Linked DNA regions of Homo sapiens: region 1 is linked to region 2. The links come from fine-mapping of genetic effects on gene expression. A gene starts in region 2. The other region holds a variant in brackets. All regions are shown on one strand. Distances are from middle to middle. Region 1 has its middle 4.5 kb from the start of DSTYK. Region 2 holds the start of TMCC2-AS1 (TMCC2 antisense RNA 1).

The links. PIP is the estimated chance that this variant, and not a neighbour inherited with it, causes the effect.
Region 1: its variant is the best candidate, but not a certain one, in a credible set for the expression of TMCC2-AS1 in testis (GTEx, PIP 0.67).

The regions. Positions count from the first base shown.
Region 1 is chr1:205,214,015-205,218,408 of GRCh38, reverse strand. No RefSeq gene overlaps it. Among named protein-coding and RNA genes, the nearest start is that of DSTYK, 4.5 kb to the right of the region's middle. RefSeq lists a cis regulatory region at 4,249 and an enhancer at 4,177-4,321. The variant G/A (reference allele first, on the strand shown) is at 1,954.
Region 2 is chr1:205,234,826-205,239,219 of GRCh38, reverse strand. TMCC2-AS1 (TMCC2 antisense RNA 1) reads left to right here and starts at 1,929. Exons shown (of 3, transcript NR_183258.1): 1 at 1,929-2,036; 2 at 2,262-2,715. The region is part of intron 1 of TMCC2 (transmembrane and coiled-coil domain family 2); the gene reads right to left.

The DNA.
Region 1 (4,394 bases), 21 kb after region 2:
TACTGGTAGGTGTTAATCTATCTATCTTTATCCACCTAGGATCAGCCCAGAGATAAGAATATAACCAATTATAAGGTGTTATTCCAGGTAGGTAGGGAAATAAACCAAATATGGGTTCCACTGAACTGTCAGATAACATAGTGGAGAAAGGATCACAGCCATTTAGACTTAGAAAAGCAATAATGGGGATGGGCCCGGTGGCTCATGCCTGTAATCCCAGCACTTTGGGAGGCTGAGGCGGGTGGATCACCCGAGGTCAGGAGTTCGAGACCAGCCTGACCAACATGGAGAAACCCTGTCTCTACTAAAAATACAAAAGTAGCTGAGCATGGTGGTGCATTCCTGTAATCCCAGCTACTCGGGAGGCTGAGGCAGGAGAATCACTTGAACCTGGGCGGAGGTTGCAGTGAGCCGAGATTGCACCATTGCACTCCAGCCTGGGTAACAAGAGCGAAATTCCATCTCAAAACAAACAAACAAAAAATTAGCCAGGTGTGGTGGTGGGTGCTTGTAATCCCAGCTACTTGGGAGGCTGAGGCAGGAGAATCCCTTCAACCCAGGAAGCGGAGGTTGTAGTGAGCCAAGATTGCGCCATTGCACTCCAGCCTGGGTGACAAGAGCGAAATTCCGTCTCAAAAAAGAAAAGAAAAAGAAAAGCAATGCCGATCTACTGTCTTACTGATGAAAAATGAATTGTGACAAAACTATGTTCAGGGCTTCTGGAAAGCTTTGGATCAGTTACTCTAAAACATTTCTGGAAAACCTTGTTCTTCTACTTGGCAGTGAAACAAAGATGATCTCTGTTTAGAGTTATACCAAATTCCCTTTGATTGTTTCCCTCCAATGCTCTACATCCTAACAGCCAGGCATGGCACTGATGAAATATTCAGCATTGGAATGATATTTGATGTATAATTAAATAGCATTTAGCAGTTCAATTTTATAGAGCTTTAATCTTCAAGTTAATAAACCTTCATGTAGAGAATCTCATAAAATATTCTTGGAAATGCTATCCTCCTTGTAAAAATACATAATCCTGAATGTGAATAGTTACTACAGACAGAAAACATTTCCTAAGCATGTCTGTGTGCAAAGTAAGGTGCTAACTGCTTTAAACATTATGTCATTTAATCTTCACAACCCTGTGAGTTGGGTATTAGTTCTCCTCTACAGATGAAGTGAATGAGGCTCTAAGTAATTTGCTTACGATCATGAAATAAGTAAGCAGCACGGCCAGGACTGGAAATTCGGGTTAGATTCTCTCTGATTCCCTTGCTTTTCCCTACATTTTTACAGGATTTCTTTTTTTTTTTTTTTTTTTTTTTGAGACATGGTCTCACTCTCTTGCCCAGGCTGCAGTGCAGCAGCATGATCATGGCTCACTGCAGCCTCAACCTCCCCAGGCTCAGGTGATCCTCCCACCTCAGCCTTCCAAGTGGCTGGGACTACAGGCGTGTGCCACCACACCTGGCTAATTTTTAAGTTTTTTGTAGAGATGGAGTTTCACCATGTTGCCCAGGTTGGTCTCCAACTCCTGGGGTCAAGCAATCCTCCTGCCTTGGGCTCCCAAAGTGCTGGGATTTACAGGCCTGAGTTACTACACCTGGCCAATTTCCATTTCAAAGCACTTTCACTTACCTCCAGCCTGGGAGGTAGAGGTTGCTGTGAGCCGAGATCATGCCATTCCACTCCAGCCTAGGTGACAGAGGGCAAGACTCTGCTTCAAAAATAAATAAATAAATAAAATAAATAGAATAAAATAAGATAGGCTGGGCGCAGTGGCTCATGCTTGTAATCCCTGCACTTTGGGAGGCCGAGGTGGGTGGATCACCTGAGGTCAGGAGTTTGAGACCAGCCTGGCCAACATGATGAAACCCCATCTCTAGTAAAAATACAAAAAATTAGCTGGGCTTGGTGGCGTGTGTCTGTAATCCCAGCTACTCAGGAGGCTGA[G/A]GCAGGAGAATTGCTTGAACCCAGGAGGCGGAGGTTGCAGTGAGCTGAGATCATGCCACTGCACTCCAGCCTGGGCAACAAGAGCAAAACTCCGTCTCAAAAAAAAAAATTAATAATAATAATAAAATAAATGCAGAATCCCAAGCACCACCCTAGATTTACTAAATCAGAAGTGCATTTTAACAAGATCTCCACATGATTCATGAGCACACTGAAGTTTCAGAAGCACTGTTCTGCAACACTGCCAGCATTATACACTATAGGCAGGGAAGAGGGCAAGATTGTCTAGAACCAGGGATTCTCAAACATGTTCCCTTGGGAATCAGTATTGAGATTCAAGAAAGTATGTTTGGTTGTTAAATTCGATAATGGTGACTTTTCCCAATTCATAGAAAAAAATTGGGTTAATGGGTTGTATTTTTCATCTTTTCTTCCATAATTTGTCCTCTCTTTTGGAGCTAAATATTACCTACCTGCTGGTAACTTTAGAAGATGATAATGAGCAAACAAGTAGTAAAGAAATACTTATATTTATCAATATAATTTTTCAATATAATATAATAAAACTCAATAATATGTAATTCTTTATTTTTCCTTCAATTTGTAGATTTTTAAAATTCTTGGATTTGTGATTCTGATTTTATGTTGCATAACAGAAAATAGTCATACTTTCTCTTAGTAAACTGTTCTTAATTCATATGGAAGAATTAAGTGTTAATGTTTTATGGTGTTCTAAAAAAATGATTTCCACCTACATGAACAGGAAGATCAAGGCTTCAGAATCTCTCCAGAAATCATCAAACCAAGAGGAACTTGTATAGAAAAGTAAAGTTAGAAAGAATATTTCTCACCTATCTCGTTTCCTCCAATGACAACATTAATGGATACCAATATAACCTACTGTTTTTTTCTGGGTAGTAAAAGTATGAGTGGTTTTTACTTTCTCTTTTGTGATTTCCTGAATGTTAAAAAATGTTGGCTGGGCATGATAGCTCACGCCTGTAATCCCAGTATTTTGGGAAGCCAAGGCAGGTGTGTATCACTTGAGTCCAGGAGTTCGAGATCAGTCTGGACAACATGGCAAACCCCAAAACCCTGCCTCTACTTAATCAATCAATCAATCTACAGTGAACACTCAGTCACTCAACAAATATCTAACGAGTACCTACTAAGTGACAGGCACTATTCTAGGTGCTGGAGATACAGCAGTGAAACAAACAGCCAGACAAAAATCTCAGTTCTGATGTCAGTAACTTGGGTCTTTCTTCTTGGGCTGCTCATATTCCTTCATGATGACACTTTAAGTTTTATCTTTGGAGGGTAAACAGCTGGTAGCCAAAGATCTAGGAATTGAATGAAGAGGGTATCCAATATCCATACATTCACTTATCTCCCTGTTTATGCAGAGAGCTATTTAACCCTCTCTGGAGAATAAATACTTCAGTCTTGTTTTTCGGAGGGTGGGGTGGAAGTTGAAGATGAGGAAGTGACCTCAGGATTTAACTGCTCTTAAGCAACTATACTTCCACAATAGGCAGTGGGGGGACCTACTGTCACCAGTTTCTAAGACTTAGGGGATTCTTCAATATAAGGTTGGATCTCAACTTTATTACTTTGGGTTTAGGATTCAGGTTTCTTAGTTAAAACTTGCCCATTTGCTTTTCATCTTCCACTTTCTTTTTTGCTACCAACTCCTCTCATTATCCTGGCTTTGTGCTTTAAAAAATCCCATTACTGTCATTTTAATGGTGTTCTAGGAGGGAACAAAAGTAGATCTGTGTGTTCATCTTCATTAATTGTTTAACTCTCGACACTTTCAGGAAATACTTTTCTTTCTTTTTGAGACAGAGTCTGACTCTGTTGCCCAGGTTGGAGTGCAGTGTCATGATCTCGGCTCACTGCAACCTCCACCTCCTGGGTTCAAGCAATTCTGCTGCCTCAGCCTCCCTAGTAGCTAGGACTACGGGTGCATGCCACCACATCCAGCTAATTTTTGTATTTTTAGTAGAGACAGGGTTTTGCCCTGTTGGCCAGGCTCGTCTCAGACTCCTGACCTCAGATGATCCACCCGCCTCAGCCTCCCAAAGTGCTGGGATTACAGGCATGAGCCACTGCACGTGGCCAGGAAATACTTTTCTTTTGTTTGGTTTTTGTTTTTTTGAGACAGAGTCTCACTCTGTCGCCAGGCTGGAGTAGAGTGGTGCAATCTCAGCTCACTGCAACCTCCGCCTCCCAAGCCTGAGCGATTCTCCTGCCTCAGCCTCCTGAGTAGCTGGGACAACAGGCATGCGTCACTACGTCCAGCTAATTTTTGTATTTTTAGTAGAGACGGGATTTCATTATGTTGGCCAGGATGGTCTCGAACTCTTGACCTCATGATCCACCCACCTTGGCCTCCCAAAGTGCTGGGTTTACAGGTGTGAGCCACTGTGCCCAGCCAG
Region 2 (4,394 bases):
CATAATACGAATTGTCTTTCTAGCGTTCTATTCCAGGTCCCTTCCTCTTCTCCCCCCATTCCTAAACTGGCTTCTCCAACACTGAGGATCCACTCAGGCAGAAAGAGTTTCCCTTCTAAAGACTTCAGCAGAGGTCCTAGAGTTCTGAGGCATTTCCTCTCCCCTATCCCCGGGAGGCTGGTGGAGGTGCTGGGGAGAGCTACGGTGGCCACCGATGTCTGCCATATTGCCTTGGAGCCTAAAATCCTTGGTCAATTTACTTTTAAAATTTATACAACAGCATTTTGCAAAGTGCGTTCCGATTTATACTGTCATTATAATCTGACACTAGCCTAATCTCAGGAGCTAGGAATGTGAGATGTCACAGCATCAGTGTCTATTTTGCAGATGAAGAAACGGAGGCACAGCATAGCTAAGTGGCTCATCCAAGCCACACAGAGAAACCCCCGACTTCTAATTGAATTTACCTTCATGGGCCCATACACTGATTTCAAGACTTAAGATTTAAAGTAGATAGGGTATTTGCATGTGTCCCAGAATAGTATCAGAGGCAGGCGCCAAACAAAAATGCCTGGGTCAAGGGTTGTTAGGTCCCCTGAACTGCTGTTGTGACCTGCCCATCCCATGTTATGGGACAAGACCCTCAACTATAAAGTCTTTACTTCCCACCTCCCTGAGCTGTCCTGCAGCTGAAGGAAACCTAGGGAAAGTGACCAGGAGACCCCAGGACCTTTGTCCCAGCAGACCGAGGAATCTATTAAAGTCTGAGGCAGGCAGGAGGGAAATAACAAAAAGGAAGTCAAAGAACAAGGTGCAGAGAGAGGAGATTACTCCAAATGAAGGGGTTTTTCCTCACTGATAAGGTGCGAGGCGGGAACAGCAAAGTGACGCAAGGGCTGGGCCGCTTCTGCATGTGGGTGTCAGGGAGGAGATGGTTAAGGAGTTTTGACATAACACAGTAAGTGTTTTAAAAAAAAAAAACTCAGCACATACACATAACCAGCTACAAGTTTCAGAAGTGAGGAAAACCATGGTGACTAGCTTAAGGGAACTTAGCCGCCAACGCAGCAGAAAGCACCACCTGCTCTGACTAACAGGTTCCAGCTCCTAAAATGTCACTTGCTTTTCCACATTGACTTTTGCTTTTCCCTGGCTGCCAGAAACCATTTTGGTGGCCAAATGAAGCCATGCATTAGAGAGCTGAGATGCTTCAGAGTTAGAGGTGGCAAACAAACAGGGCTTTCATGATCTGTAAGACCGAAGCAAGAAGTGCCGTCCCCAGAACTGGCCATAAGGTAGTCAGAAAGGAGAGCCTCCCAGGGTGAGGTGCCCCGGGGAAGGAAGTGAGGGGAGTTGGCTGTCCCTCCCCTGGAACTATCTGAAAGGGCAGGAAGAGCCCCATCTCCTTGGGTGGCACTGTCCTTTCAGGAAAAAAGGGAGGACTAGATGGCTTCTGAAAGATCCTTCCTGAGAAGGCTGTGGTTTCTGAACAGTTGGGCTTCATCCGTCTTTCTCCCTGGGTGTGGGTCCCCCAAAGGGGAAGTTTGCTCCAAAATCTGCAAACACAGCTGCATGAATACAAAACTAAAATGCCTTGGGGTACAGTGTCATTGGCACCATCTGGTTAAAAATGACCAAAAGTGGTTTCTAATTTTTACAGGTACGTGTGTTCTCAACAAATCCCAGGAAAGCTTAAAGTCACACTAATCTATAGCTAATTATCCCACCTGGCAGCTGACTGCATAGCCCTTCCTCCTACCTGGGTTTGAAACTCCTTCCGCCCTACCAACAGTTTGGCTGTGAGGGTTCAGTGGGGTGACTGGGTCACCCTGAGCCTTTGCCAGCCTAGGTCGCCAACATTCCTCTATTTATAGGGTCTCTATGGAAACAGGGCCAGCATTAGAGAACTAATCACTGTAAAAACCCACAGAGTTCTACTCTTAGGATCCAAAGTGGATTGAAGAAGTCTCCAATTGCCCTTAAGAAGCTCTGGGTGGGGAGCCTGAGTGGGAGCAGGAGAGGAACCATTACCCCAGGTTTGGCGCTGATGATCACAGTGGTGTACAGTAGGCAGCTGCAACTGTTCAGGCCCACTTGGAGTTTCTACTGGAAACCCAGTGATGAAAGATTTTTGGAATCATTTATTTATTCCCCAGCCTCACAGATGAAATTTTAAAAAAAAAACTCAACTCATGGGCACACGGGCAAAAAATTCCCCCATTCTCAATTTTATTTTGATTCCTCTTTCCTTTATTGCTTAGAGAATTCAGCCTGGAGCCAAAGCAAGTGGGAAAAGGTCACCTCATCCACCATGTCTTTAGGCAGAACTGATTCAGCACACACCAACATAGAAGACTTTTATTAAAGTTCCCAGCATGGCGTGCCCTCTCTCTGCCTCTTTGCATCCTACCCATCCTTCACCACCTCGCCACTCCATAAAGCCCTCTCTGATCACACCAGTCTGCAGCGATCTCGCCCTGCTCTGAACACATAAGCGCTCATTATCTGCACCACTCATTTTGCAATTAATCGTGTACTGCCTTGTGACATCGCTTCTAGTGCTTTGTCTGACTGTTATCCAACTTCTCACCTGCTGACGGATGGAACCCTTGATGACAATATGAGTGACTGGACAGCAGGAGCTACAGCTCCTACATCTCTGTGTCCCTAACATTACCTGGCAGAGGCCTCAACACCAACATGGAAGACAGCTAGGTAAATTATTTGTTCATTTATTTTCTGAGCAGCCACTATCCAAGTCTCTACAAATCCATCTTACAAAGGTGATTTTAATCCTTAGATGACTACCTTTTCCAAAGACATAACCTTTCACAAAGATTTCAAATGCTCCAACAGCCTTTTCTTGTGTCTAACTCAGATTTCTCCTGCTGCAGTTTAAACCCTCTTCTCACTCTATTATCTTAGTAACCGCCAAGATTGAGTTGGCTTGGAAGGAGATGAACACAGACCAAGGAGCCAGAATGTATGTGATGTCTTCACAAATGGCTTAGGGAGGGCTTGGGAGGGGGCTCATGTCCTTACAGCCAGATTTGTTTTCCCTGGTGGACATCACTCAGTTAACCTGGCTGGAATAAGGAAGCCTTTAGTCATTTGGTTTAAAAATAACTGTTCTTTTTTTTTTTTTTTTTTTGAGACAGAGTCCTGCTGTGTCGCCTAGGCTGGAGTGTAATGGCGTGATCTCCGTTCACTGCAACCTTTGCCTGCCGGGTTCAAGCAAATCTCCTGCCTCAGCCTCCCGAGCAGCTAGGACTATACGGGCACACCACCATGCCTGGCTAATTTTTTGTATTTTTAGTAGAGACGGGGTTTCACCATGCTGGCCAGGCTGGTCTCGAACTCCTGACCTCGTGACCCCCCTGCCTCGGCCTCCCAAAGTGCTGGGATTACAGGCGTGAGCCACCGCGCCCAGCCAAATAACTGTTTTTCTAGCACAGTCACAAAACATACCTGTTATCCCCCAACAGCTTTGTTCTAACTTCTTACACGAAGAGAGACTTAAGTGTTTGGCTGACAAAGGTGGACCCTGTCCAGCTATGGCCTCATTCCAAAAATGTAGCATGCTAGTAGTCTATGGGGATTTCAAAGGCAGATGCCATTTCTTAAGGGAGAGATGAAAACAGAAATGAGTTCTGAGTTGGCCTTTAAGACCACCACTGAGAAGCTGCCTGAGCCCTTTTCCCCAGCTCCTGATAACCCCACACTTTGAAAACTTCAGCCCAAAATTTAGGTCCTATCAGATATTTCAACTCCTTGCTGAAGGAGATTCTTGTTAATGGGATTGGCAGTGAAGACATAATTAGATACACAAAAAGAAGCACATTCTGTAAATACTGAGCCTGCCAGACAGTTCCCACTAGAACAACTAGGGCAGCTGGGAATTAATCTAGAACTCAATATGTGGCAGGAGAACAGGGAGTTTCGTTTGCCACATGCTTTCCCATCGGTCACCAGTTCCCCCAGAGCCCACATAGAGGGCTGCTCTGAATATTACCTAGGCTGGAGGGGGTGGGGGGGAGGCAATCCTGGGCCTTCCAACCCTCTGCCTGCTTCATATAAGGTGCAAGCGGGACAAAACAGTTAACTTCAGCATTTGCACTACCCTCCATTGTTCCTGATCATTCTAGTCAAACAGGGCAAAGACCCTACAAAAGCACTTGCTACCTCACTTCCCCCATTTAGAAAGCCCCTCTTCTCTTGTTTGGTAATAAATGTCCCACCCCTTCTTTAAAATCTTGCTCTAGGCCGTGCGCAGTGGCTCACGCTTATAATCCCAGCACTTTGGGAGGCCGAGGAGAGTGGATCACCTGAGGTCAGGAGTTTCAGACCAGCCTGGCAAACATGATGAAACCCCATCTCTACTCAAAATAGAAAAT